7 linked regions of the Homo sapiens genome follow. The protein of the gene in region 4 interacts with the protein of the main gene of each other region in a biochemical or structural test. Each region holds a gene or a part of one and is shown on either strand. Other genes may lie near its edges. The genes, in order: TJP1, MAGI1, GRID2IP, UNC93A, HTRA3, LDB3 and SNTG2.

What was found.
Region 1: the proteins of UNC93A (region 4) and TJP1 interact in a test that uses a peptide from one of them, tested with the Homo sapiens proteins (one large-scale study listed by IntAct).
Region 2: the proteins of UNC93A (region 4) and MAGI1 interact in a test that uses a peptide from one of them, tested with the Homo sapiens proteins (one large-scale study listed by IntAct).
Region 3: the proteins of UNC93A (region 4) and GRID2IP interact in a test that uses a peptide from one of them, tested with the Homo sapiens proteins (one large-scale study listed by IntAct).
Region 5: the proteins of UNC93A (region 4) and HTRA3 interact in a test that uses a peptide from one of them, tested with the Homo sapiens proteins (one large-scale study listed by IntAct).
Region 6: the proteins of UNC93A (region 4) and LDB3 interact in a test that uses a peptide from one of them, tested with the Homo sapiens proteins (one large-scale study listed by IntAct).
Region 7: the proteins of UNC93A (region 4) and SNTG2 interact in a test that uses a peptide from one of them, tested with the Homo sapiens proteins (one large-scale study listed by IntAct).

Annotation. Positions count from the first base shown.
Region 1 is NC_000015.10:29,713,932-29,718,188, reverse strand, and holds part of TJP1 (tight junction protein 1), read left to right. Parts: intron 1-70; coding exon 71-168; intron 169-1,350; coding exon 1,351-1,578; intron 1,579-4,257. UniProt on the Homo sapiens protein: TJP1, TJP2, and TJP3 are closely related scaffolding proteins that link tight junction (TJ) transmembrane proteins such as claudins, junctional adhesion molecules, and occludin to the actin cytoskeleton.
Region 2 is NC_000003.12:65,381,158-65,385,414, forward strand, and holds part of MAGI1 (membrane-associated guanylate kinase, WW and PDZ domain-containing protein 1), read right to left. Parts: intron 2,467-4,257; coding exon 2,375-2,466; intron 913-2,374; coding exon 720-912; intron 1-719. UniProt on the Homo sapiens protein: Plays a role in coupling actin fibers to cell junctions in endothelial cells, via its interaction with AMOTL2 and CDH5. May regulate acid-induced ASIC3 currents by modulating its expression at the cell surface.
Region 3 is NC_000007.14:6,544,599-6,548,855, forward strand, and holds part of GRID2IP (delphilin), read right to left. Parts: intron 1-4,257.
Region 4 is NC_000006.12:167,297,460-167,301,716, forward strand, and holds part of UNC93A (protein unc-93 homolog A), read left to right. Parts: intron 1-485; coding exon 486-611; intron 612-4,257.
Region 5 is NC_000004.12:8,272,754-8,276,253, reverse strand, and holds part of HTRA3 (serine protease HTRA3 isoform 1 precursor), read right to left. Parts: intron 1-3,500. UniProt on the Homo sapiens protein: Serine protease that cleaves beta-casein/CSN2 as well as several extracellular matrix (ECM) proteoglycans such as decorin/DCN, biglycan/BGN and fibronectin/FN1.
Region 6 is NC_000010.11:86,682,011-86,686,267, reverse strand, and holds part of LDB3 (LIM domain-binding protein 3), read right to left. Parts: intron 591-4,257; coding exon of another isoform or gene 568-590; intron 1-567. UniProt on the Homo sapiens protein: May function as an adapter in striated muscle to couple protein kinase C-mediated signaling via its LIM domains to the cytoskeleton.
Region 7 is NC_000002.12:1,265,137-1,269,393, forward strand, and holds part of SNTG2 (gamma-2-syntrophin), read left to right. Parts: intron 1-2,228; coding exon 2,229-2,435; intron 2,436-2,935; coding exon of another isoform or gene 2,936-2,959; exon of another isoform or gene 2,960-4,213; intron 4,214-4,257. UniProt on the Homo sapiens protein: Adapter protein that binds to and probably organizes the subcellular localization of a variety of proteins. May link various receptors to the actin cytoskeleton and the dystrophin glycoprotein complex.

The sequences.
Region 1 (4,257 bases), on a different chromosome or scaffold from region 4:
TGATATCTATTCTGTTAATTATCTGTTCCTTAGGCATATTTGTCTTTTTTTTTTTTTTTTTTTTAAACAGCCTCCAGAAGTAGCATCTAAACCTTCAGGTGCTCCCATCATTGGTCCCAAACCCACTTCTCAGAATCAATTCAGTGAACATGACAAAACTCTGTACAGGTGAGTACACTTTGTGCTCTTTGTGGCATAGAACTGACCAGGAATTTAACCCTCTTAGTCAATAAGAAAACCTTTTACTGTGTTAGTAGAGGAGAGGTGTGAATAGGAGGAGTTTGTCCTTAAATAAAAACTATCAGCTCTCCTAAACAGTGATTCTAGGGGGAAAAAAAGTAGAACTTTATTTCTGACAAATCTGACAAATCTTTATACCTTTAGCAGACTTTCGGAAAGATATTCTCCAAGCAGATGATTAAATAAACATTTTTAAGCTCTGACATTTGTATTATGTTTTTTAGTTTTAAAAGTGCTTTTCGACATGTGAACTCTTAGTTTCCAGTGGTGAGGAAACAGACTCAGATTGGTTAAGATAACTAAATCATTTAGTGAGCATGCATAAGGTGCTTGCCCTTGTGCTAAGCACATCAGCATAATGAGGTGACACTGTTGTTGTTCTGCATTGTAGAGAGAGACACTGAGGCTGAGAGGGGCAAGTAGCTTACAAGACTTAGAGCTGGAAGAGAAACCTGGCCTGCTGCTCCTCAGCCTGAGCTTTTTCCCATGGCCTCATTGCACTGCCAATAAGTGACAGATTAGATTTGAATACAGCTCTTCTGATTTTGTTTTTTGACTGAATATATGTTTGCACTTAGGATAAAGAAGAGAACTGTCTAATATGAATTTACTTAATGACTTGCTTTCTTCCTCATCTGCTTTGTATGCCTTCTAGAACTTTAGACCATATAGAGTTATTTGTTCATATGAGAATCATTGAGATCCTGGACTGAGTTCTTAAAAATCCCTTTGAAAGTTCTTAAAGTCTATCATTTACTGTTCTTGACCTTGGTATATGTACTTCTCAAGATGTTCACTGTCTCGGTTACATTGCCCTTTGTCTTTCTGATTAACTACTTCTAACCTGCTGTTCCCTAATCATGTAATCGTTTAGCTTATTATATTGTGTTAAAGGACTCATGAGCCAGAAGGGGGCTGCCTTTTGAGTATACTCTGTGAGGACATGGGATTTGAAATATCCATTTTAACTGTTGGGACTGCTCAGATCCTCAGTAATCACAGCAGTTAGTAATTATTGACCTTTTAGTCAAGATAAGACTTACATATTCTACTTCCTTCATAACATTAATATTTAAAAAGGTGTTCCGTTTGTCATTCATTATCTGTTAGGATCCCAGAACCTCAAAAACCTCAACTGAAGCCACCTGAAGATATTGTTCGGTCCAATCATTATGACCCTGAAGAAGATGAAGAATATTATCGAAAACAGCTGTCATACTTTGACCGAAGAAGTTTTGAGAATAAGCCTCCTGCACACATTGCCGCCAGCCATCTCTCCGAGCCTGCAAAGCCAGCGCATTCTCAGAATCAATCAAATTTTTCTAGTTATTCTTCAAAGTAAGCTATTTCACCTGGCTTTTAAAAATAGGATGCAGCATATTAATCCCGTGCAGTTCAATATATTTTGAAGAAAAATAATTTAAGTGTAATATATGATTTCTGTAGGCTCTAGTGGTTCAGCATTGTACATACTTTTTAGTTCTGGGATGTGTGTTTTGTTTTTAAAGTCTGCTATTAGATGTACATAGTTTTTGCATTCACAAAGATGCTAACATCACAGGGTTTTGACGGAAGACAGTGTCAACCACAAGGACCCTCATCGATAGGTAATCATCAGTCTTCACTTCTGTACACACACCTAATGATGTCATGCTGGTTCTTTTTCTTTTCTGTTTTTATTTTTTAAATATAAATACAGATGTGAGGAGGATCCTGTTTGAGGGAAATACTGAAGAGGTTTTTTGTTTTTTGTTTTTGTAAGATTTCTGATCCAGTTTTACAGGTGAGGGAAAATGACAGGGCAGAGCTGGGACTGAACCCCAAGTTTCTTGACTCCCAGTCATCTTTTCCCTGTGCTTGCTGCTCCCCTCCGTTTACTCATCCCTGGGTTTCGTGTTGGTTTGTTCTCCTTTCTTGTGCCTGCGTGGGTTTGTGTCTCCTACTGGTTCTGTGTCTCTGGTTGAACCCTGACTGATAAGAGAATTTGGTACTGATAGTTGTGTCTAAGCCCACACGGGCACACAGGTAGATTCATACCTCAATAGAACAAAACCCACAAGAACAAAAACAGATGTGGATTTGTCAAAAGAAATTCATTTACACAGTTACAGGGGCTGGCTAAGCAAGTCCTATTTCAGAGGGCAGTTGGTCAGGAAGGGAAGATTTTGAGCTACTGGGGAGTGTGAGATCAGGGAAGGCCTAAATTCTCATTCAGAGGGCTCTGCTGATTAGGCCAGGCCCTCCCAAGACCATCTCCCCTCAACTGACTTGGGGACATTACACCTGAAAAATCCCTTCATGGCAGTACCTAGCCAGATTGACATATTAGAATTCATCACACATAGTATTGTGTCTATATTAAAAGCACCTAGATTTTTCCTTACTTAGTTGCGTGGGCTTGGGATTATCTTGGGAAATGACCTATTTGTCATTTACTATTGAGTGTAAATTGTTTTAGAACATACTTTAAAACCACTAACATTAAAACCTAATTTTAATTACCACTGCTTTTTTCTAAGACATCCTTTGTAGTGAAGACTTTTTTCACTGTCCTATATTTAAGGCTTTATGTTTACAGAAGAAAGCAGTTTATGAGAATCCAAATGCAAACTGAGAGTGCTGCAGTGGGGGTTGTATTAAATGCAAAACGTGTCTTGTACTAGTGTTGTGAACCACCCCTTAGCACAACACTAGAAAGGGGTTGTGGCATCTAGATGGTGTCTGGACTGAAGTGAGCTAGCACAATATAAACCCACACAGGTGCACAGCTGGGTTCATACCTCAACAGAACAAAACCCACAAGAACAAAAACAGATGTGGATTTGTCATTAGGAATTCATTTACATTTACAGTGTTACAGGAATTCATTTACACAGTTATCACAGTAACATCTAAATGGTGACTAGCCTAAAGTGAGCTAGGCACTGAGCCATAGGAGCTCACCTTTGGTAAGGCAGAAGGGTGTACCCTTTAGTTATTATTTTTACTAAACACCGTTAAACACATTCATTCCTGTCAGAAGAAGGCTCAGGTGTTTAGTTTAAAGATATCTCTTATTTATCGTTTTACATATTTGGTAAATAGAATACAACCTTAAAAAGATTATATGGCCAGGCGCAGTGGCTCGTGCCTGTAATCCCAGCACTTTGGGAGACCAAGGCAGGCTGATCATGAGGTCAGGAGATCGAGACCATCCTGGCTAACACGATGAAACCCCATCTCTACTAAAAATACAAAAAAATCAGCGGGGCGTGGTGGCGGGCTCCTATAGTCCCAGCTACTCGGGAGACTGAGGCAGGAGAATGGCGTGAACCCGGGAGACAGAGCTTGCAGTGAGCCGAGATCGTGCCACTGGACTCCAGCTTGGGCAACAGAGTGAGACTCTGTCTCAAAAAAAAAAAAAAAAAAAAAGGCTGGGCGCAGTGGCTCACGCCTGTACTCCCAGCACTTTGGGAGGCCGAGGTGGGTGGATCATGAGGTCAGGAGATCGAGACCATCCTGGCTAATATGGTGAAACCCTGTCTCTACTAAAAATACAAAAAATTACCTGGGCATGGTGGCAGGTGCCTGTAGTCCCAGCTACTCTGGAGGCTGAGGCAGGAGAATGGCATGAACCCGGGAGGCGGAGCTTGCAATGAGCCGAGATCGCGCCACTGCACTCCAGTCTGGGCGACAGAGCCAGACTCATCTCAAAAAAAAAAAGGAGTATATTTAGGTCTAAAAAGTAAGTTGTTTTGCCAGGGAATCAATCAAAATGCATGTTTGCTTTCTGTGTTAATTTGTTTTTCTAGAAAGAAGACTTAGCTTATTTGTGATGTATAACTTTAGGGTGTAGAACATTGCCTTGCATGCAGTAGGGGCTCAGTAATTGTTGAGTGAATGAAGCTCAAAACAGGGCATGGTATACTAGGTGCATCCACCACCCTTCTTTTCATTAACACAGCTCTGGAAGGAACCTGTATTACCTGGTCATTGTTTTCACAGGGATATATTGTGAAACAGATGACATCTGTCTTT
Region 2 (4,257 bases), on a different chromosome or scaffold from region 4:
ACAAACACTCACACAATTCACTGTCTCAAAATGGCAGATTCTGATACAGCAGTAAACCATGAGTCACTAGAATGGCAAGGAGGGAATGCTAAAATCTGAAGGCAGTTGGAGGAAGGAGGAATTTCCAAGGGAAGAAAGTTATATTTGAGCTGAGCCTGAAAGGATATGTAGTATTTTGAGAATTAAAGTTCAAAGCTTATGGGCAGGAAGAAGGAATCAAAGCTGACCTAGAACTGGCCAGCTCTACAACTTTCTTGTAGAAAGAAAAAAAAAAAATCTTGGTTTAATACATAGGACAGTAAGAAATCAGTAACTTTTTTATGAGCTTATTTTGTAGCACAAACCCGATTTTTGTTCCCTTGATATGAAGCTACAACTCTTCTGACTTTCATAATGACCTCATTTGCTGAGGATTAGCATCAAATGAAGAGGATGGCTAAGTTCTGATTTGCAAGGAGATAGAAGGGAAGTAATATATATTCAACTAGCCTTCCTCTGGAAGCCTTTGTTGAACACATGCAAACGGCACATTAAAGTACTTTAGAATGACAGTAATTTTTGCAGGGTTTGAGAGAAGCAAGCCATCTGGAAATTCTGAGCTTGATCACATTTGCAAACATTTGCTAAAATAGACGCTCAAGGAGGCAGACACAGGAAGGAGGCCTTTTCTGTGAATAAAGTGACAACGCACTGTCTGAAGGAATGAATGAAATACATACCCGCAAAAACCACTTTACGCCGCACCGTGAGATTGACGTGGCCTTGCTTGGCAGCTTGTTGCATAAGCTGGACCACAAGCTGGTGTGATTTTCCAATTACTGGCGTCCCATCCACACAGATTAATTCATCTCCAGACCTCAGGCGGCCGTCAGTATCAGCAGCACCCAGTGGTACGATGTGACCAATATAAATCTGTTGAGTAATTGAACGATGGATGAAACATTGCTCTCCTATGTTTACTGTTACATCAATAGCCTTCACATCTCTGGGAACAATTCATTCATTCATGTCTGCAGGCATGCCGCAAACATTTATTGAGCACCCACTGTGTACAAGACATTGTGCTAAGCACTGCAACAATTCTTAAATGGTGGAAAGAGTATTTCTTGCTTAGTTTCCAGATGTTTATCTGTGGCCTATTGATGACTCACTCTCTTTTTCCCCTTTGCAGATATAAATTACTTTTCTCCCTTCATTATATACCCTATTCTTCTTTGGTAGCTACCTAAAAACTCTCTTTCCATAAAACTCTGCTAATTAAAATATTAATATTACTTTTATTTAAGGGTCTAGCATCATGCCTAGGAATAGGGAATCTGTAATAAATACTCTTAAATGAATGAATGAAGCAAAAGTTGGTTGGACATCTCCATTTTTGAAGTCTTTTAGCACCCGAAAGCAGAGCACTCTTTATAGTTAGTGTCTTGCTGTTATATTTGCCATTCACTAAACCTTAGCTAAAATATTTGTGCCTGCCTTGCCTTTCCAGCAGACAATAATGCTATAGCTACCTTTACGTGGCATTTATAGTTTACAAAGAACTTTGACAAAATAGTTGCTAAGAACATGAACTCGAGTCAGACCTTATTTGTCAGTCCCTCCATTTGGTAGCTCTGCGATCTTGGGCAAGTTAGTTAGCCTTTCTTTTCCTTGATGTGAAAACGGGATAAACTGGTGGGTTTGACGGATAAATGAGAGAATGTATGTTAAGAGCCTTTAGCACAGAACCTGGCACATAGTAAGCGCTCGATGAATAATGGCTGTTATTACCACAAGGAAATTAACGATACCTATTTCAGTTTTCTTTTCTTCCTTCAAAGGAACCCTGTTATGTTATTCTAAATTTATTCCAAAATGGAGGACACTGAGGCCCAGGGAAGTTCAATGTTTCTTGACCCTTACTCAGGGTTCTTTCTCAAGTTTTGTAAAGGCAGGGGTCTGACATTCTCCAATCACTGTCTCATAAGGCTTTGCGAAGTACTCTCTGCACACCAGCAACTCAACATACAAAGCCTACTACCTGCTGGCAGAGTGAAGGGACCTGGCCAGAAGGACCAGGCCACTGTGATATTAGGTGATGCCTATTCCTGTTTTGCTTTCTGTTTTCATCTCCCTTGGGGGAAAAGGGGTGGTCTACAGAGGCAGCTCCCACCTTTCACAAACACTCATACAAACTTTTTAGAAAGAATCTAGTCTCTTCTTCCTCAAGACAAAGAGAGCTCCACAAAACCCAATGAGAAACCCACACTACTCAAGATTAAAGAGTCAGTGTTGCATCTAGCTGGACTTAAATCTTGGTGATTTGTCACTGTCGCCAATTTGCTTTGAAGCCTTAGAAAAATATGCTGGGAAGAGAGACAAGCAAAAGACTCACAGGTTCCCCTGGTTCATTTCCACCCAGAATCCTAAATCCAAATCCAGTCTCTTTTCTCCAGAGGAAGATGTCCTGTTCCTGGTAATCTGGAACTGCAGAGAGGGGAGAAAAAAGAGAAGGATTATTTTACTGATAAAAGCAATGATACCCCCAAGATGAACACAGTTGCAGGACAAGAATGGTGGTGCTTGATCAGATGGAAGATTTTCAATATAGGCAAAGAAACAAAATACTCTGAACAGGTGAAATAATGGAAGACACGGGGATAAACAGTGGGAATAGTCACTGAGCCCTAAAGTTCTTCACAGGACCCATCACTGTTTGATAATTCCGAATCAAGCCCAAGCCATGATCCTTAACTACAAATAGTCAGCATTAACTGCTTTCCTCAGTATTCTTGCAAGGAGAATTAAGTAAATTAAAATTATTATGTGCCACACCACAAAGCAGGTGTCCATGTCCAAGAACACTCAGGCTAAGTCAGAGTCACCTCTGAAGCCAGATCTAAGGATTCGGAAGTCATGTTAAGTCACCAGATGTTTCCTCTACTAGAGGATGAAAGAGAACAGCTTGGTTTAAACAGACTTTCTGATTTATCTTTAAGTCACTTTCTTCTTCCTTAAAATAATTAAGGCTAGCAATGCTAATAGGCTTTGTTAGATCATTTTTGCCAAAAATTACTCTAAAACATCCTAGTATTTCTGCATACAGTCAGTCCTCCATATCTGTGGGTTCTGCATCCTTAGATTCAACCAATCACAGATAGAAAATTTGTTAGACCTACAATGGTTTTAGCTGTGATGAATACGTACAGATTTTTTTCTTCTCGTTATTCCCTAAGTAATACAGTATCACAACTATTTACATGGCATTTGCATTGTATTAGATGTCATAAGTAATGTAGAGATGATTTAAAGTATATAGGAGGTGGGGTGCAGTGGCTCACAGTGGCACTCCCAGCACTTTGGGAGGCCAAGGCAGGCGAATCGCTTGAGCCCAGGCATTCAAGTCTGGGCAACATAGTGAGACCTTGTCTCTACAAAAAATAAAAAATGAGCCAGGTATGGTGGTGTGTGCCTGTACTCCTAGCTATTCGGGAGCTGAGGTGGGAGAATCACTTGAGCCAGGGAGGTTGAGACTGCAGTGAGCCATGATTGCCCCAGTGCACTCCAGCCTGGGTGACAGAGTAAGACCCTGTCTCAAATAAATAAACAAACAACAAACAAACAAATAAATAATATAGGAAGGGGTGTGTGTGTGTGTGTGTGTGTGTGTGTTACACACAAATATTAGGCTATTTTCTAGGGATTTAAGCATCCATGGATTTTTATATCCTTGGTGGGGGATGCGGGTGTCCTGAAACCAATCCCCAGCAGACACTGAGGGGTGACTGTACAAATTTTATTAGGATTTCAATACTATTACCAAAATCAGCCAGGCCTCCAAATCCTTAAGATCAATGGTGATGACAAAAAGTCTATGTTAATGAATCATATATCTCATTGCCAAAATGACTGCTTTACTCTAGAATTTGCCTATGATATTTCAGCATTAAAAGTATTAATTCATTTTCCAGTAACCTGATATTTTACTTTCAATACTCAGCAATGGTCCAGGGCTTTAAAATGAATATCTTGTTTTTTAAAACAAATGCAATTTCCATAAGAAAATACTTACTATACATGAAATTGTTCTATACACCACTCTGTTACTTCACTAAAGTAAAAGAGTTATTTCTATTTAATTCTTACGTAATATTTTAATGTATACATAGGGTGTTTTATGACCTATAAAATGATATATCATTTTTTTAAAGAGAAAAAATATATATTTCAGTTGCAGTGAATCCTAAAGGAGATTTTCAAATGCTATAGTGCATACCT
Region 3 (4,257 bases), on a different chromosome or scaffold from region 4:
CTACTTCTCCATTCCCTGCAGCTTATATAAATGTTCAAGTCTCTCTCAGGCTATAAATAAATAAATAACAAGCTGGGCACAGCAGCTCATGCCTATAATCCCAGAGCTTTGGGAGGACAAGGCGGGAGGATCACTTGAGGCCAGGAGTTGGAGACCAGCCTGGGCAACATAACCAGACCCTGTCTCTAAAAAATGAAAGACAGCCGGGCGCGGTGGCTCATGCCTGTAATCCCAGCACTTTGGGAGGCCGAGGCAGGCGGATCACAAGGTCAGGAGATCGAGACCATCCCAACTGACACGGTGAAACCCCGTCTCTACTAAAAATAGAAAAAAAATTAGCCAGGTGGGCGTGATGGCGGGCGCCTGTAGTCCCAGCTACTCGGGAGGCTGAGGCAGGAGAATGGTGTGAACCCGGGAGGCGGAGCTTGCAGTAAGCCGAGATCGCGCCACTGCACTCCAGCCTGGGTGACAGAGACAGACTCCATCTCAAAAGAAAAAAAAGAAAGAAAAGAAAAAGTAAAAAGTTAGCCAGATATGGTGGTGCACGCTTGTATTCCCAGCTACCAGATACTTGGGAGGCCGAGGTAGGAGGATCTCTTGTGCCCGGGAAATCAAGGCTGCAGTAAGCCATGATCACACCACTGAGCTCCAGCCTGGGTGACAGATCAAGACCCTGTCTCCATAAATAAATAAATAAAAGACAATCCTCCTTTGATCCTGAAAGCTGCTCATTCTCCTCCCTTCTGTAGTCTGGAGCCGTCTACACGTGCTGTTTCTGTACCACTGCCCTTTGCCACTGCAGTTCACTATTGCACTTGAGGCTCTCCACGACCCAGCTCTGGCGAAGAACCCCAGACAGTGACTCTCAGACCTCGATCTTCAGCCGAGAGCTCGCTCTTGAACTCTGGAACTGTATATCCACCCGCTTTCTAGATGATTCCAAAAGGGGAGGAGAAGTAGCGGGAAGCTTCGAGGGTTTCCAGTCAGAGGCCACGTTCTGTACACGTCTGAATCCTAGCACAGATGCACCATGAGTCTGTGTAACCGTCTGTCTCCCCCACCCAGGTGTGATGATCCGGGGTCTCATGCTTGTCCAGCCCCAAGCACAGCGCCTGGCACATATTAGGCACTCAGAGAATGTGGATGGGACTGAATCAAAAAGCAGCCTTGCATTGCACTTCCTGCAGGCCCCAGCTCACCACTGTTTCCCTCCCTGTGAGTGGGCCAGGCTGGCAGCACCAGCCGCCCCCTCCCCACGCACGCGCCGTGCTGGGGAAGGTTGCCAGTTTGGAAATCAAAGTCAGCAGCAACCTCAATTCAAAGGAGAACATGGCTGGCTGCAGAGATGTTTTATGTAAGAAAGAGGAAAAAATAGTTCCTCCCTCCTGGGGCCCGTGCTACAGTGCGGTTTCGGTGTCAGTTATTACCCAGATGTTCTCAGCCTACATCTAAGCATGAGGTATCATCACGGGACACTAATGGATTTTCTATTAAATATCAGCCACTTCAAGGAGGAAAAACTGGGGCAGGCAGAAAGCGCAGGCGAGAACTGGAGGGCTGGTGATTGAAAACCAACCAGTCTGGCGCAGTGGCTCATGCCTGTAATCCCAGCACTTTGGAAGGCAGAGGCAGGTGGATCACCTGAGGTCAGGAGTTTGCGACTAGCTTGACCAACATGGTGAAACCCCATCTCTACTTGAACTCCTGACCTCAGGTGACCTGCCTGCCTCGGCCTCCCAAAGTGCTGGGATTACAGGTGTGAGCCACCGTGCCCAGCCAAGCCACCAAGCCTGGCCTGTCTCTACTAAAAAAAATACAAAATTAGCCGGGCGTGGTGGTACATGCCTGTAATCCCAGCTTCTTGGGAGGCTGAGGCAGGAGAATTGCTTGAACCCAGGAGGCGGAGGTTGCAGTGAGCCAAGATCACGCCATTGCACTCCAGCCTGGGCAACAAGAGCGAAACTCTGTCTCAAAAAAAAAAAAAAAAAGATAGAAAACCAACTGGGCTCCACGGAGGCCCTTCATCTTCCAGAGGAAGTCATTTTTGGAGATTCACTCTCAGCTTTTGTGGGTGCCCAGCGAGCCCTAACCAAAATCCTCCACTTCCCCGTTCCTCCTTGCCAGAAAACACACTGCAGCTGGCCTGGGCAGCCTGTCGGATTCTACCCTCAGCGGGTTGCTGCCCAGCCCTGCTCCTGGGCAGGTCTTCTCTTGCATCCTGCCCTGTTTGGAGCTCTGAACGTGCCCCCTTCCAACTCTGCAGGGATTAGATGGAGTCTGGGATAGACCTTTGGCTCCATGGCAGGTGATCTGGGATTGTAGCAGGCATTACTCGCACTCACCAATATTTCTAGGTCTTCCCTCTTTCCTGGACACACATTAGACTACATTTCCCAGCATCCTTAGGGAGGAGCAGTGTACCTAGTTCTGCCCAATGAGCATTGAGGACAGGTGCTGTTCTAAGAGGAGATGCACAATTTTCCAAGCTCTCTTCCTCTTCCATAGGGAACCCTGAAGCTTCACATAGAGATGGAGGAGTCTGAAATGCTGAGACCTCGTATGGACATCAAGCCACCCTAGAAAGTCTACTGACCCCCTAGAGGACTCTGTGGGTGAAAAGTAAACTTCTGTAGTGCAAACGCACTAAGTTGTTGATTTTGGGTCAGGCACAGTGGCTCACACCTATAATCCCAGCACTTTGGGAGGCTGAGGCAGGAGAATTGCTTGAGGCCAGGAGTTTGAGACTAGCCTGGGCAACATAGCAAGACCTCATCTCCCCAGTCTTTTTTTTTTTTCTTAATCAGCCAGGTGTGGTGGTGCACACCTGTGGTCCCAGCTACTAGAGAGGCTGAGGCAGGAGGATCACTTGAGCCCAGGAGTTGGAGGCTGTAGTGAGCTATGATTGTACCACTGCACTCCAATCTGGGCAACAGAGCTAGACCCTGTCTCAAAAACAACAACAATAAAAAATGTTGGGTTTGTTTGTTATAGCAGCAGAGCCTGTTGTGGGTACAGGAAGAAAGTCACAGCTTTGGAAGATCTGGACTTTGGTGATGTAGGGAAGCTGGAGTTGAGTCCTGTGTGTATGCGAGTGTGTGTATCTGGCCACAGAGGCTGGTCTACTCAGGGTCAGAAAAGCCCATTCAGGGGATCAGGCTAGGGTACATGATGGAGGAGACACTCCTGAGGGGGTTAATTTGGAAGGGGTTAGGACTGGACCAAGCTTGGGCACTGAAGGAGGCCAGAGTGGGTGGGGACCTGATGCCTGGGCAGTGGGCTGGGAGGCATTTCTGCAATAGTCAAACTCCGACAAAGTTTCCAGGCTCCCTGACCTCCCAAACCCCATGGCCAAGTGCTGCTGGGGCAGAACTGAGCAGATTCCCTTCCACGGAGGAAAAGTCTGTGAGCTTGATAACACAACAGGGTGACTATAGCCAATAATAACTTAATTGTCCATTTTAAAATAACTTAGGCCAGGTGCAGTAGCTCACACCTGTAATTCCAGCACTTTTGGAAGGCCGAGGTAGGCAGATCTCCTGAGGTCAGGAGTTCAAGACCAGCCTGGACAACATAGTGAAACCGTGTCTCTACTATAAATACAAAAATTAGCCAGGCATGGTGGTGGGGGCCTGTAATCCCAGCTCCTTGGGAGGCTGAGCCAGGAGAATTGCTTAAACCCGGGAGGCGGAGGTTGCAGTGAGCCGAGATCGTACCACTGTATTCCCTGGGCAACAGAGCGAGACTCTGGCTCCAAAAAAAATAAATACAAACTTAAACGGTGTAGATGGATTGTTTATAACTCAAAAGATAAATGCTTGAGGGGATGGGTACCCCATTCTCCATGACATGCTTATTTCACATTGCATGCCTGTATTAGAGTATCTCAGATACCCCATAAATATATACACGTATTAGGTACCCACAAAAATTAAAAATCAAAATAATGTAAAAAAAGTTGGCCAGATGCGGTGGCTCACGCCTGTAATCCCAGCACTCTGGGAGGCCGCAGCAGATGGATCACGAGGTCAGGAGTTCAAGACCAGCCTGACCAATATGGTGAAACCCCATCTCTACTAAGAATACAGAAAAAAAAAATAGCTGGCCATGGTGGGGTACGCCTGTAATCCCAGCTACGCGGGAGGCTGAGGCAGGAGAATCACTTGAACCCAGGAGGTGGAGGTTGCAGTGAGCCGAGATCACACCACTGCACTCCAGCCTGGGTGACAGAGCGAGACTCTGCCTCAAAAAAAAAAAAAA
Region 4 (4,257 bases):
ATTGTATTTTTCTAAGAGATCACAGAACTAACGTTAGTTTTCAAAAACAGAAAAGTTATGAAATCACCTGCCCAAAGTCATTGAGTTGGTAACAGATGAATCTGAAAGAGAATCCAGCATTCCTGGCACCCAATCTCATGTACTTTTTTCTTTTTGACTAATTTTGAAAACTTGAAAAATTTTAATTATGTCAGAAAAGCAGTAAAACAAGTAACCAGCACTTTTCCAAGTTCATTCTTCCCTGAATCTTTGCAGAACACGAATAGGATTTTCCACCTCCCAAAGTGTCTTAAATCGAGTCTAGGGACATGTGCCTAGACTCGATCTAAATCTATTTTGAGACACTGGGTCTTTCCACGTGACCTGTAGTGATGCCTCCCCCCAGGTGTCCAATGTCCTTTCCACTGTCACTTTGATTTCTCAAGAACCTACATCTTGTCACATTTGCCGTCATCTCATGTCTCCTGTCCACTCTGACTTCATAGAGACCCTTCCAGAAGAGCAGCTCACGTCCTGTGGGGCCAGTGACTGCCTGATGGCCACCACAACCACCAACAGCACCCAGAGGCCCTCCCAGCAGCTGGTCTACACCCTCCTGGGCATCTACACTGGTACGAGCTCCATCGGCCCAGGGCAGGGTCCCTAGCAAAGCAGAGCCAAGCCTCCTTCCTGGGCTGACAAAGACTGTCTCTCCCAATGTAAAAGTAATCTCTCTTCTTCTGAAATATCCTTGCAAAATGTATTGGTCTGGATTATATGCAGGCGGTGTTCTTATGAATCAAATGCAGTACACCCGTGCTGTCTAACAGAGGATCCTGGGGTGATGAGATTGTTATACATCTCCAGAGCCCAACACAGCAGCCATTAAGCACTGTGGTTGTTTACATCTTAACTGATTAAAGTTTCAGTTCCTAAGTCTCCCAGCCACACTGCAAGTGCTCAGCAGTACGGGGGCTGGCGGCTACCATTACAGACAGCTTGGTGGCTGGCTAGGGCACTGGGATTGACTGTTTGTGTTTCAGCTGTGGCCAAGGGGCCCTGAACATCCATAATTGCTATAAGCCACTTTTTTTTTTTTTTCTGAGAAATGTGCTGAGTACCTTCTGTGGAAAGGCTAGAGGGGCGAGTGCTCCCAAGTGCTTGTTGCACCTTAGCTGGAGACGTTGCAAGCTCATGGTGAAAGGGCTGCCCAAAGGAAGTTAATTGTCATGACGAGGCTCATTCTTAGAAGTTCATTTTAATAGAGAATGTTATGTAATAGTTTCATATGTGACTTCAGTGTTATAGTCAAAGGTTTATTACAACTTTGAAGGGGATACATTTAGAGAGTTTTAAAAACCATTTTGTAAATAATTTAAATATTTTTTTTTTTGGCTGGGCATGGTGGCTCACACCTGTAATCTCAGCACTTTGGGAGGCTGAGGCGGGCAGATCACTTGAGGTCAGGAGTTCGAGACCAGCCTGGCCAACATGGTGAAACCCCATTTGCACTAAAAATACAAAAATTAGCTGAGCGAGCATGGTGGCATATGCCTGTTATCCCAGCTACTCGGGGGGCTGAGGCAGGAGAATCACTTGAACCCGGGAGGTGGAGGTTGCAGTGAGCCAAGATCGCGCTGCTGCACTCCAGCCTGGGCAACAGAGCGAGACTCCATCTCAAAAAAAAAAAAATACACACACACACACACACACATATTTATATATGCATGTACATATACATATACACGTATATATTTCTATATGTATATATATATATATATATTCTTTGTCATTCTTGGATTTGGGGATTCATAAAGGCCTTGGAATGGGTCCTTCTTAAAGATCAAAGGCCTGGCACCTGTGAGCTCTGGGGGTACCAACTCCTGCACTCTGCCGGGGTCAGAGGTGAGGAGGGTTCGTGGGCACTGCAGAGCTTTTCCTCATGCTGAGATGATGTGCGGCACCAACCTCAGGTCCCCTCAGGCCACTTCCACATCAGAGGCTCTGAGTGAGCACTTGTAAAGCTATCGCTGGAAGTCGACAAAGTGTACTGAGCACGTGCTAGGCCATGCTAGGCCTTCTTGGTCCAGACATTCAGATGACTAGAAGCTCGCCTTTAGTAAGCTGAGAGCCTAGTGAAGGAGGCAGACACACACCCAACTAACCGAGACCAGTCCGACAGTGTTCTGAGCACAGTTCCCAGCTGACTTGCAGCTGCATCTCCCTGGAGCACGGAGTTTCAGGAAAGCCTCCAAGGGCGGGTGGTCCCTAAGCCGAGTCTGGACAATGAGCAAGATTTGGCCAGGCAGGGAAGTGATGCTGAAGTCCCTGGAGGCGAGATGTCCAGGAAGAGCCCGCAGGGCTGGGGGCAAGGTGGAGGGGCAGAAATGGGGCACAAGACTAGCTGTGGCCCTTGATGTTGTGCCAAAGGGTCTGGACGAGTGCAGACTTGCCTTCTTGACAGACCCCATGCCAGCGTGACTTAGAGGTGCAGAGAGACAGCGGGCAGAGACCCACTGAGGACGGAGTGCTGAGTCCAGAGGAGGGAGCAGGTACGGGGAGGCAGAGATGGAGGGGCTGAGAGAGAGGCCAGCAGGGTCCGTGTGGGTTGGACATGGTGTGGGGAAGAGAAGACAGCCCTGGGGTTGACAGGAAGATGAGCTCAGGCCGGGAACACCTGGCTTGAGGACGCAGTGGGACTCTTGCATAGTGTCCAGTGGGCAGTCTGACGCCGTGCAGGGCTCAGGCCAGAGGCCAATGCAAGTGTGGACGTGGAGGCATCTTCCAACATGGTGACTGGAATCATGTCAGGGATGAGGCTCTTAGGGAGAAAAAGCAGAGGGAATTGTTACAGAGAAGGGAGTATAGCTGGACCCCTGGTTCAGCAACACTGAGGGCCAGGCAGACAACTGGAGCCTTGGAAGGAGACAGAAAACCAAACCAGGGTCTTGGAGGACACCAGGGTTGTAGAATCAGCTGGGGAGGGGGTTTGAGAGTGTTGAGTGTGGCAGGGCCCCTAGGAGGCTCAGGGGGGAGGCTGGACGAGGCTCTTAGCCAGTGAGAGGCTGTTGATGCCCATCAGGCGAGCAACCTGGGGAGGGTGCTCGTGTGCAAGGCCCAGACTGAGGGTTTCAGAAGTGAGTGGAAGGTGTGGACAGGGAGTCAGGAGGAGCCACGGTTTTCTCTGGTCTGCAAGTCTCTGCTGACTTGGAATTGTGGTCATGTTTTCCCAGCAGGCCCCAAGGTTCCCATCAACATGGTCCCAGGGACCAGCCAGGCCTGTGCTTCCCCAACACTTCCCCTCACCACCTCCTCTACATAACTAGGAGGCTGGGGGACTCGGGGACATTGAGCTGAGTCAAGACCATCAGGTCTCCTTCCAGCTCCACAAATTCCAGTTAGGCAGCCACCAACAAAGACTTCTCCTATCTATAAAAGAACAGAATTTTGGAGTGGGGGCTGCAGCCTTCCTCTGTGAAGGGCTGACAGCAAATATTCCTACATGTAAGTATCTTTCTGAGGATCATATGGTCCTTGTTGCAATTGTTCAACATTGTCTTTGTAATGGGAAAAAGCCATAGACAACATGTAAGCAAATGAGCATGCCTGCATGCCAATAAAACTTTATTTTCAAAAGCAGGCAGTGGGCAGGCTTTGGCCCGCAGGCCATAGTTTGCTGGCCCCTGCTCTAGAGGAACAGCACAGGCTTCTCTGTGGCTTCCAGGCCCTTCATTGCCAGCTGTCCTCCGCAGGTGGCTGTTGTCTGTGGAACCTCCCCTGCAGGGTTACCCCCAGTGTGCTCTCTGGCCACAGCCCCATCTCGGTTCACGGAATCCCGCAGCCTAAGGGAGTCCAAGTCTAGAAGTTATGTAGAGCAGAGATCACACACATGTAAATGAAGAAGTGGTCTTACTATTGTGATTGTAACAGTCCTGCAGGATCCTGTGTGTGTCCTTTTCTATAAAGCAAGACCATGTCTCCATAAAGAAAAACATAGGAAGAGAGAAAAATGGACCTAAAAGAACAAGAACACCCTCTCCCTGGGTAACTTTCCTGGGTTTCTGAGCATTGCATTCATAGTCAAGTTTCTTGCAAAGAGCCATTCTCTTTAGAATTTAGGACACAGCTGTGCAGCATCCCCCAATTCATGCCCCACAGAAGGCTCTGAGTCACATGACACCCGGACATACATAATTCTGAACAAAGGGGTGTGGCTTCTGTGTTCATAACCTGCCTCTCCCCTTCCCACAAGGCTTTCGGGGAGATTGTAGGTTGTGT
Region 5 (3,500 bases), on a different chromosome or scaffold from region 4:
AAGAGCTTCAGAGACTTCTGGGGCAGAGCTGGGACTCCACCCTGAGCAGCCAGACATGAGGGACAGAACTGGGTCCCAGTCCTGGTGCTCTGCCCATTATGTGCTGGAGCAGGGTAATGCACACAGGTGGGCAGGCTGTACATTGCACAATTCCAGGGAGTCACCTGCTACCCCTGCACTAGACCTGGCTTTCAGCTTGGGGAACATATGGACGTGTCCTCGCCATATCTTTGCTGCACCAAGGACAGCGGTCTATGATTTTAAACCCTGTCCCACCCATTAGTCCACAAACACCCTCATCAAAACCAAACAAGGCAGACACTTCGAGCTGCTAGGGGCCTGCCTGGTATTCAGAGCACTGGCTGGGGAACCAGGGGACCTGGGCTCAGGGCAGAACCATCCATCCCTACCTGAGTGACCGAGGGCAGCTTCCTACAGCTCCCTGAACCCTTTCTCATACAGGACCAGGACATCAATACCCCAATGATGTGTTGAAGGCTTTGTGGGCCTGGAACAGTGCCCAGTGTCACACCGTTCACCCTTGTGAAACCTGGTGGCCTCCCTCCCTCAAAGCAAGCCTGGGCGGAAGGTGTTCAGACCACCTGGCAGGCCCTGGTGAGCCTGTGGGAGGCCAAGGGTGCACAGGCCCCCTTGTACCCACCTCTCCACAACTAGACGCCCCCATCTCCAGAAAGCCCTCCTGATCTAGCCCTCTCTCCACTCTGAAGGTGGTTTCTTCCTCTTCTGGGCTCCATGCATTGTCATTGGTCCCTCACAATGCAGGATGGGGGTTTCACAGGGGTCTGCGGCTGTGGTGATGTGGGCAGGAGGCAGTGGTTGGGGTCACCAAGCCTGCGAGCCTGCCAGGAGGCTATGCTTAGTCCTGAGGCCGTGGGAGCCATGGCCCAGCTTTCGGCAGGGAGGGTCCGGGTCTCGCCAAGTCCCTTCAGGCTGCTGTGTGGGGCTGCATGGGAGGGCAGAGGCCTGTCGGGGGAAGACCACAGGATGGCAGATGGGGTGAGGGTGCATTTGCTAGGCCAAGCCCCGGCAGGAAGGGCAGCTGCACAGCGCCCTGGTCTCAGCTCCAGTCCGGCTGGACTCCTGGCTCCTGGCAGCCTTGGCGAAAGCTCTTGGCCAAGCAGCTCTGCCGGCAGTTCCAAGTCCTCCAGTGCCGCCAGATGCTGTGGCTCAGCACTGCAGCCCCAGCGGGAGTGGGCGGGGCAGGAGGGGAGGCGTCATCTTGCCTGAGTGGTCCCAGATGCTGAACTCCAAGGCATGTGCAGCCCCAGGAAGCTGCTAAGAGGATTACAAATCAAAAGCCAACCCAAGTTCTTCAATAAATACAACCGGGAGATGCCATCAGAACCTGCTTGGGGTTGCACAATAAAAGCCGGTGATTAAATGCCACCTTGTAAACTGCTCTGGGGCTCTACATTCTGAGCGCATGGCAGGCTCCAAGGCCTGTTTATCTGCAGCCAGAGGAGAGGCTGCATGGCCTCAGAGCTCTGGTTACGCGCAAAGGGAAACCCTTCTCCACACAGGCCCTCAGAAACGCATTTATCCCTGCTTTTACCATCCCGTGGATGGACATTTATCCACTCTGTGCAACTGCGATGCCTTAACATGGACCTGAGAAGATGCGAGGGTTCCCCTGAGAAGTGGTGAGCCTCTGTCACTGGAGGGATGCAAGAAGGGCCCAGAGGGTTAGAGGAGATTCACACATCACATGGGCCCTCGTCTCATTTCGTGTCATCTACAGAGGCCACGCACTGGCCCAGGCCCCTGCCCGGCGAGGCTTCGAGCCTGGAGGAGATGGGGATCACGCAGAGAAATTGACCCACAGTCACATCTGTGTGCAGGGCCCACCGGAGACCCTGGGTGTGCTCACCAAGCAATGAAGGATGACCTGGGCACAGTGGCCAGGGCAGGTGGCTCAGGGGCGGTGGGACATCCGGGTGAAGGCAGGATGAGGAACCCACCACGCTAAGGCAAGGGAAGGAAACGCCGGGCAGTGGGCACATTGCGTGCAAAGGCCTCGAGGTGGGAAAGAGACCGGTGAGGCCATGAGGCCAGAGCACAGGGGATGAGGGGACAGTGGGAGACGGCACCGAGGGTGATGCGGGCCAGGTGGCAGGCACAGGGCCCTGTGAGTCAAGGTAAGTGCTGGGGTGCCTTGCAAGGAAGCCTGCAGGTCATGGGCAGGACAGATTGACCAAGGTGATCCTGGCTGCTGTGTGAGAAGTGATGGAAGGGAGGATGGAGGGGGAAGTCAGAGCGCCCCAGGAGATGTTTTGTGGATGAGCTGAGGGGACTCCCGGTGCACAGGAGAATGAGGGGTGGAGGGGAGTGAGAGGCAGAGAGGAATGAGGGGTGGAGAGGAGTAAGGGCCCCCATCCACACAGCTGGGCTGCAATGGGCAGGCCCAGGAAAGGTACCCCCACACCAAGTCCCAAACTGATGAGCCACTGTGACAGTGCAGCAGGCATTGAGGGGAGTGAGGGGAAGAGGGGAATGAGGGGCGGAGGGACGGAGGGGATCGAGGCTCCCCACTGAACATCGTGGTGCTCCTTTCAGTGGGGCTGGGAAGAGTAGAGCCCGAGGCGGCTCAGCAGGCATCTCCACGTGACTCTAACTCAGGAGAGACCCGGGGGCTGGAGATAGGGCCCGAAGTCCCAGCACCTGGGGAGGACTTCATGGCAGATGAGCTTACTGGGGCGGGGGTGCGGGGGGGAGGGTGGCGAGAAGGGACCAAGGAGACCTTCCTGCCTAGAGGGTGGGAGAAGGCGGAGGAGCTGACATGGGGAGGGGAGAGGAGAGCACAAGGAACCTCAGCCCACAGGAGGCTGCCCTCATCAGGCAGGACTTCCTCCCAGAAATGCCCGGCAGCGCCTGGCACACCACTAAGTGTGACCGGCACCCAGCAACTTCTGGCTGGGACCTCGGGAGGGCAGAAGCCGGCTACGCTGCTGGAATACTCCATGGAGGCTGAGCCTGATGGAGCCGGGGGCCCAGGCCTGACCCGACTCCCAGCCTCAGGGGCCCTGCCACCCCTTGCAGAGGAAAAGCCAGGAGGCCCACAGAGCATAGCCTGCAAAGCCAGCCAGACCCAGGCCAGGCCCAGCCGGGTCACTTCCTGACCATGTGACCTCAGAGCAGTCCCTCACCCTTCCTGGCCTCCAGCAGCACATCTGTGGTGCCTGGGAAAGGACCAGGCTTGCCGTGGGAAATGAGACAGGGCTGGGGAGAGGCCGGGCACCCAAGGCCTCCACAGGGAGTGGACTCTGCGTGTCGCCCTGCCGAAAGCTGGCTGTCCAAGGTCCCCGTGCACCGGGCTACAGTGGCAGGGCTGCACACCGCCCACAGTGTGAACGGCGCCCTGGAGATGGCCAGCAGCCTCCCACCTGCACTCTCTGCCTCCCCTCCCCACCAGGCCCCATTTCCCCACCTGGCTCCGTGGGCTCTGGTGGCGACAGGGCTCTCGGGTCCTGTGCAGGTCTCTG
Region 6 (4,257 bases), on a different chromosome or scaffold from region 4:
TGCAGGCCACCCCCTTGGTGGCCCAGGGCTCTGATCTTCCAGACGCTTCAGGGAATGTGCTTCTTCCTCAGAGCAGGGCTCCAGCTGCCCAGGCCCCCTCAAGTCCAGTTTGCTGAGTAGCTGGCCATCCTCTACCCACAGGAGGCTCTTCCCTCCAATGGATAGGTGCGCTCCCCGGGCAGACAAGATCCAGTGCAGCCCTTCTGAGGGGTCGCCAGGACAGAAAGGTCTTCAGGCTCACACAGGCCCAGCAGCAGCACAGCCTGTGTCCCCCTCCCCCTGCGCCCGCCACCGTCACCAACCCCAGGCACATCTTAAGCAGCTGCTGCAGCAGGAAATTGGGAATGAAATTAGAACCATCGGATGGAGCCCCCACTCCCACCCCCAAATGCTTCTACTCCAGCTTCACACATGCAGGCTCACCCAGGGGTACAAGTGTACCCCACTCATACATATGCACATACATGTACACATGCCAGCAGGCACACTCTATCCACGCCAGACACACGCAGACACATGCTGGGGCTGGCACGCAAGCGCACACACATGCTGTCCTTTGATACTAACTTGGCTGGAGAGTTGACTACCACCTGGGGAGGAAAAGGGCAAAGAAGACAGGGTGGTCAGAGAGAGGCTCCACCAGGGGCAGTTTGAGCGCCGGGGCCATCATCAGCCTGGTCATTGTGGAGGCAGAACCAGCCCAAACCGCAATGGGTGAGGAGAGCAAGGAGTGAGGAGGGAGAACTCAGAGCCGGGAATCACAGCTACTGGGACCCTCGGTTTGGTTCAGAGACTGACACAGCAATGTTTCCCTCTTGAGGGGTCCCCAGTGCCCTCTGCTTTGCCAGAAGAAGGGTTTTCTTGTCTATCTTCAGGGGCACTCGTACCGCATACATGAATCCCCCACATACAAACCTGGCTATAGACCCCAGAGTGGAAGCTAGGGGTGGAGACAGGACCAGCTGTGGCTGCTATGGAAAAGGCTGAGGCCCAGGGGCCTCCCTGCCTGTCAGCAGCTCCGGACTAAGAGTCTGTTTTGTGGGGGCAGCTCTGGAATTCTGTCCTGAGCAGGCATTGCAGTGGTAAGGAGGCAGGGTGTGCGCGGGGTTTCCTATGCCCCCCCAAACCTGACCTCCTCTCCCTCCCAGAAGAGACGCAGGCAGCTCTGGCTGCTCCTCTTGGGGTATAGGGGAGTGGGGTGCACAGTCACCAGGGGCCACTCCTAAAGGCCCCTTGGGCCAGCAATGAGGCAGGATGGAGGAGCGAGCAGGCGCAGGGAGAAGTGTGAGCTCAACAGCCGAGGCAGCACAGTGAGAGGCCCCTTCCTCTCACTCTGACCTGAGAGTGAGCCTCCCAGAGCATGGTCTCTGTAGGGAAAGCAGTGTCTGTCCTGTGTTTCTTTAAATGCAAATTCCCTGCAGTGGCAGACCCTGTGGCCAGCAGCCCTGTCGGGGGCCTGTGAGGGAGACAGTGTGGAAGGTGGGGGGCTCTGTCCCCAAACTCTGCCACCTTCTTGAATCTGCCCAGTGTGGGCTGTAGCTGGGGGAGCTTGGGCCCCGGCCAGCCTGGCCCTGGTCATTTGCAGCCAAACCCTGGGAAGCCAGGCTCAAGTCAGTGGTCCCCGGTCCCAGGGAGCAGCACAGTGGCCCTGCTCTGCCCCAGGCCCGCCACTGCCTCAGAACTGATAAAATTCCCTCTATCCTCCCAGGCTCAAAATAGCTGCAAGTGGAGCTATATTAGGAAAGGGCCAGCACGGAGCTCCATTCCTTCTCCATTTTTGGCCAGTGCTGACAGCTGCAGGGTCATCTCTTGCCCTGACCAGCCCAGGGCCCCCTGCAGAGGGCAGTGTTGGCCTGGCGGGGTGGGGGCTGCCTCTGCCCTCCCTTGGCAGCCTGCTCCTTCTTTGACATTTATTCCTGCCTCCTGCTCAGCTTCTCCCACCCAGGACCTGGGGCCGGGATGGTGGCAGCAGACACATCTGAGAGGAGCCAGTGCCTGGGTCTTGGGGAAGATGAGCCAAAGATGTAAGACCTGCCCAGGGGCCCTTGCACTGAGTGGCCTGAGGGGCACTGCCCTTCAGTGCCAGCCTCAGAAGGGAGGAGAAGAAGGGGGCTGCTGGGATGCCTATGCCCGTCTGCCCTTGCACCACATCTGTTTCTCTCTCCTCCTTCCAAGAGGATACGAGGTGCCAAAGAATTGCACTGCAAGTTGCCCAGAGGAGAGAGTAGCGGAAGGGGCTTCTTTTTGGAGCCAGACAGGACAGAGTTCAAGTTGTGACCCTGCCTCTTCCTAGCACTGTGACTCCGGGCAAATTACCCACCCGTCCCAGCCTGTTTCCTAATTCTAATTCTTGAGATGGTAGTGCCTACCCCGCAGGTGGGTTGTGCAGACTGAACGGGTCATGAGTCTAAGGTGCTCAGCATGGGAGAAGTGTGCCATGGATAAGCACGGGGATTAGCCCTTGCTGACCCTGTTGCTGACCCACTTAGCATAGGTGGTGGCCTCAGCCCAGCAGAGGTTGCCCTAGGCCAGCCCAGGTCAGAGGCTCCAGCCCTTCCTGCCGGCATTGCCTGAGACAGCAGCATCAGCTTTTACTTTGGATGAAGCACCCACTGCACATCCTCCCCTAGCCCACCATCCCTTGGAGGAAACGTCAGACTCTGCTGCTCTGAGCACCAAGAAATAATTTACACATTCATCAGGGTCTGGGCAGCCCCTGCACCGACAGCAGAGTACCTTAGGCACTATGGGAAGCAGAGGTGGGCCTGGCCCCTCACTTCCCTGAGCAGGCAGCAAGTCCCTGTCTCAATGCAAAGTGGAGTCAGGCAGACCTGCATGCCAGTTCTGTCTGCCACTTACTAGCTGTGTGACCTTGGGCAAATTACTTGCTCTCTCTGAGCGTCTATTTTCCAGCTATAAAATGGGGAAAATCATGCCCACCTCTGGAGTTGCAGAGAGAGTTGTTTTAGAGAGTGTTGCTGAGAGATAAGGCATGTGGACTGTTAGCTGGTCCATAGCCAGAGTGCATGGTCAGTATGGGGAGACATTATCATCATTGCAGGTGGGTCTCCTGGGAGTCCCAGGCCACCAGAGGCTGACCTCTCTGCCTGAGGCCAGTTCCTGAAAAGGACCGGGAAGACCTACCAGCCCAACAAATGCGGGACAAGGAGGTCATCTCTGTTCTACTATTCCCTGAGTTTTCTGGCAAAAGTCCTTTGCTGGGGAACCCTGGGGGCATATATGGCTCTGTCACCTTGGGTAAGGGAAGCAAGCCATGTGGTGCCAGAAATCAGCTTCACTGAGGATTCTAGAAAGAGCTGGGGGGGTGGGGAAGCTGAGGGCCACAGGGAGCAGTGACCTGATGGGGCACAGGTGCCTTCTGCTGCAAGGGCAAAGGCAAGGGCATGGGCTTGGGCCAGACTGACCGGATTCCTACTGTGACTCTTCTGGGTGGCTCCAGGCAGTGATGATACCAGGTGTCATGCAGTGAGTGGGTGACAGACAAAGCTCAGAGCTTTACAAGTGTTGGGCCCTTTATCCTCCCAATAACCCTGAGACATGGACAGTGTGATTCCTCCATGATTCGGAGGAGGAACCCTGAACCACTAGGCTCTACTGCCTTGACTCAGCCTGCCCTGCCTGGAGAGGGCTATGCCAATTGCACAGGGCGGGAGTAGAAGTTAGGGTGAGAGAACAAGCGTGAAGGGCTCAGAGCTAACACAGGCCCAGTGTGGGGACTCCGTTCCTTTGCCTCCCCCCTACAGTGCCCCAGTCCCATGTCCTTTTACCTGCTGTGCTCCCAGAGTCCCGCCAGCTAGACCTTAGGGGTGAGGCTGCTGTTCTCCTGCACAGCCCCTTTCTCCTTGGGGTCCTGCTTCCTCGCCACCCCACCCTGGCCAAGGTCACTCCTGCAAACCCGCTCCCTGCACGCCACTGCCAAAGAGTCTCTCCATATACAATTCAAGGGCTCCCTCCTCCAGGCAGCTTCCCAGACTATTCCTAGTCCCAGATAACTCGCTTTTCCACCTCTCGAACGCTCCCCTGCTCCTGCCTCCGAGCTCCCAGAGGGGTGGGGACCTGTGCATAGCTCTTGAAGGCTGCAGGCTGTGCTGTCCTGTTCTGGGGAGTGGCCTAGTGAAAAAGTGTTGGAAGTCAGAATCTCCTGAATTCAGGACTGGCTCGGCCACATGGTAGCTGGACAAACGGACTGTGACTTAACCTTCTCTGAGCCTCAGTTTCCTCCTCTGCAAAATCCGA
Region 7 (4,257 bases), on a different chromosome or scaffold from region 4:
GACATTTAAGTTCAGTGGATAAAGAGATACTTTCTGCACCATAAGGTCAATGATGAACATGTTGTTCTTGGTTTGTGACGTGTAACCCTATAGGTTCCAGGTATCCCAGCTGAAGGAGACGATCCAGAGGGCCCCAGAATTAAAGTGCAGTTTCTGTACTCAAGGCTCATTTAGGGTTAGCAACGTATGCACACTACACACATTCACGTACACACACATTCATGTTCACATACATTTCCACACATACACATGTTCATGTGTGCACACACATTCTCATGTGCACACATACACACACACATGTTCTCACGTGCACACACCACAAGGCATTTGATGTCTGGATGATGCACAGGGATAAATGTGCAATGCTCTCCATGATCAGAGGGTCATCCTGCAGAGCCATCTGCGGGGCCAGGAGAGCCAGGGCATCCCCCCGGAGAGTCCAGAAGGCCCACCTGAGACACACCAGTCGTAGCTTTTACCTCAAACCTGTGCCTAGAGTGCATGTGTCAGCATATTTCAAGTAAAACTATTTGGCCAACTGCTGAGTTCATGTGGATTTTGGGACTGGACCTTGAGCGTAAGTGTGAGTGGGGACTGTCCAGCTTGGCTGGTTGGCACAAGTGAATGGAGATATCTCAGAATCATGATGGGAAGACCCAGCAGGTGGGCAGCTCCCCTTCCTTTCTGCTGCCATATGCAGGGCTGTGGGTGAACACCACATTCTCATTCAGGACTTTGGAAACCCCAGCCCAGGTGTCTCCCCTTGTTTCCCTTCACTGGGGAGAGACTGGTGCAGCAAAATTGATGTTGGGGTGCAGCGTCCCAGGAAGGTGTCTGGTGGGGGCTCTTCAGGGTGGATCTGTGGACCAGTAAATGAATGGGTGAGCTGAGAACTGAGGTGGGTCCAGAGAGAGACAGACAGAGACAGAGAGAAGGATAGAGAGAGACAGAGAAACAGACATAAAATAGAGAAACAGAATGACAGAAATGGAGAGAGAGAAAGAGACACAAAGAGAGACAGAGACATAGAAATGGAGACAGAGAGAGAGAGAGAGACAGACAGAGACAGAGAGGTGCCAGCCAGGTATTGAGTGCGCGTTCACCATGCACCTCCATGCTGTTGACCTAGTAATTGTGACAACTGGGACCCCCAGTCTTTCTCTTCTGCCCTTGATAAAATGAATCCCGAAGTGGGGTGCAACCTTGCAGATGGGGGAAAGAAGTGGGGAGCTCCCCAGGCTGCTCCATGCAGCACAGGCTGGCAGCATCCGAATCGCCGAGTGATTAATAGACGTGCTGTAAGTAACTTACATCTCTGGGTTAAACGATTAACCAGAAATGGAACAACATCATTACATCATTCCCTTTGTCAGGCCTTTGGGTTGGCAGAATGAGCTCCTGGGTGGCCGGGTGCCTTGTCATGCTTCAGAGGCGTTTTGGGCACTCGGTCCTTTATCTCAGGACAATGAACCCGCAAGGAGAGGAAGAGCCAGTAATTCTATAGAGACTCGGAGGCGCAGGGGGCACGCTTAGTTAGAGTGGTGGTGGTATTTTCAGTGTTTTCTGGTTTTATGATAAACACAAGCATCAATGTCTCAAGACTTTCATCTTTATCTTTTTTTTTTTTTTCTTGAGACAGGGTTTCCCTCTGTCACCCAGGCTGGAGTGCATTGGTGGTGTGATCTTGGCTTTCTGTAACCTCGGGCTTCTGGGCTCAAGCCGTTCTACTACCTCAGCCTCCCAAATAGCTAGAACTACAAGCGTGTGCTGCCACACCTGGCTAATTTGTTGTATTTTATTTATTCATTTATTTTTGTGAAGACAAGGTCTTGCCATGTTGCCCAGGCTGGTCTCAGACTCCTGGGCTCAAGCAATCCACCCACCTTAGTCTCCCAAAGTGCTGGGATTACAGGCGTGAGCCACCACACCCAGCTTCATCTTTCTCTTCACCGTAAAACAGGAAAGTGTGTGGTGACCAGTATTTTAAGGGAAAGGCACTTACAGAGAATTAAGCATTTGACAAAATTTATTTACAGATATTTGTCTGTGGACCACTTCCGCACCAGCTGTGCATGAGAGGGCTCATTGCTCTGAATTTGCCTCCTTGTCTGCACCCAGGAGACCGTTTCCCAGATCACGCAAACGCTGCCTTCTCCCCACACCAGGGCCCTCAGCATGGGAATGACCTTCCAGCGCTGCACGTTTCCAATCCATGCTCTGTTTTTCAGTTCTGGCTCACAGAGGACTGCTGGTTGCAAGCAAACTTGTATCTGGGTCTTCAAGATTTTGACTTTGAGGACCAGAGGCCCTATTGCTTCAGCATCGTGGCCGGCCATGGGAAGAGCCATGTTTTCAACGTGGAGCTTGGCAGCGAGCTGGCCATGTGGGAGAAGTCCTTCCAAAGAGCCACGTTCATGGAAGTTCAGAGAACCGGGGTAAGTGAACAACTCACACTCTTCTCACCTACACCTGCTCGGGTGTCTGAGACATAGCATTGGGGAATATGTAGCAGTTTATCGGGGGAAAAGAGGAATCTTCAGAAGGTGAGAATCTTTCACCGGAGCTACTGTGTGGAAATGATCGTTCGCACGGAGTCATGCGCTCCGTGGATAAATATGAGCTGTAGTGGAAGGGAAGGGGAGGAGAGGATTTTGTGTCTGTGTCTACATTGAATGTGAGGAACGGGCTGCATCGCTTTCCAGGAAGGGACTCCACCGATGTGGCGCTCAAGTTCCTGAGAAGTGATGACACTTCTAGCCTGTGCTCCGGGAGACAGAACACCTAGCTTACAAATGAGTATAATGTGTCGTGCAGTTACTTGGATGTTTGTAATATTTTAAGGCACTTTAATGGTTCTTCCTCTCAAACTTGATGGTCCGAAGGAGAATATAAAACAGCTTGTGTGTCTGAATTGCTTTTCTCTTCCTGACAACAGCAAATACATCACTCACAAATTTGAATGTATACCATGTGAAGGGATGAGGAAGAATGCATTATAATCCTCCTTATCCTAAATAGCGGGATGATCCTTCAGGGAGGATGTGTGCTGCAGGAATGAAGAGTGACAGGAGATAAATGAGGCAGCGCATCCCAGAGGAGCTCTGACTTCACACCAAAGTCCAGGGCTCCCGCCTGGCTGAGCGCGGAGAATGCTGAGTGTGAACTTAGTAACTAAAGATGGCTACTTCATTTAAATATACATATATACCTTGAATGTGAAACTATTCTGTGTTATTTATCTTTCATTCACGTTGTCAAAATGTATCCAGGCTCCTTGGCATGCCATCACAGAGCACGAAGCTTCCCTGTAACTAATGCACACTGAGATCTCTTAGTCCACAGAATGAAGTCACACCCAGATCTTCATAGAAACTGATGCCAATGTTTATTCTCATTTATCCCAGGCTGCTGTGATTTTCCCCTCAAATTGGGCACCCTAAATTGGAATTATGGTTGATTCCTGATGCTTAAAGTAACCTTTATATTTGAAGCATCCAATTCATTAACCATTATAGAACATTACATGCTGGAAAGAAAATTACTAAACATAGGATCCTTCATCTCAGGGACTTACTCAAATGTATAGTGGCATTTAGCCACTTAGAAACCATCAGCACTAAAGGTTCAAGTCGTTAAAAGGCAAAGTGAAAGAGCGTTTCTGGGACAAGGTGACCTTTCTGCTTGTTTTCTTTAGATGATAGCAGTAATCATTTTGCTTTCAACATAAATACCGGAGAAGTAGAGAGAATTCTCCATTCGCGTGTGTGTGCAGGGCTGCCCCACACCCTCTAGTGCCCCAGGGCCCATGCCTGGCTGAGCAGAGTCCCGGTGGCCATTCAGACTCATCTATGGGAAGGTGACAGGTTACAGGAGAAGATATCCTGAATAAGAGCAATCATAGAATTACAGTGTTGGAGGGAGGGTGAAAGGTTAGTAATTTCATCTAGTACCCAGATGTAGTGAAATGAATGTCTGAAGCATTCTAGAGGGTGAAAGTTTATTTAGGATTCCTAAAAAATAGAATTTCTTTATGAATAGTCCTTCCTTATGTTTCGTACTGTCCTTATTCCACTAAAGGGGGTGAAGTCTGCGCACGGTGGTTCATGCCTGTAATCCTAGCCCTTCTGGAGGCTAAGAAAAGAGGATCCCTTGAGCCTCAGAATTAGAGACCAGCCCAGGCAACCAAGCCCAAGAAACCTAGAAGCCCCATCTCTGCAAAAAATAATAATAAAATATTAGCCAGGCATGGTAGCTGAT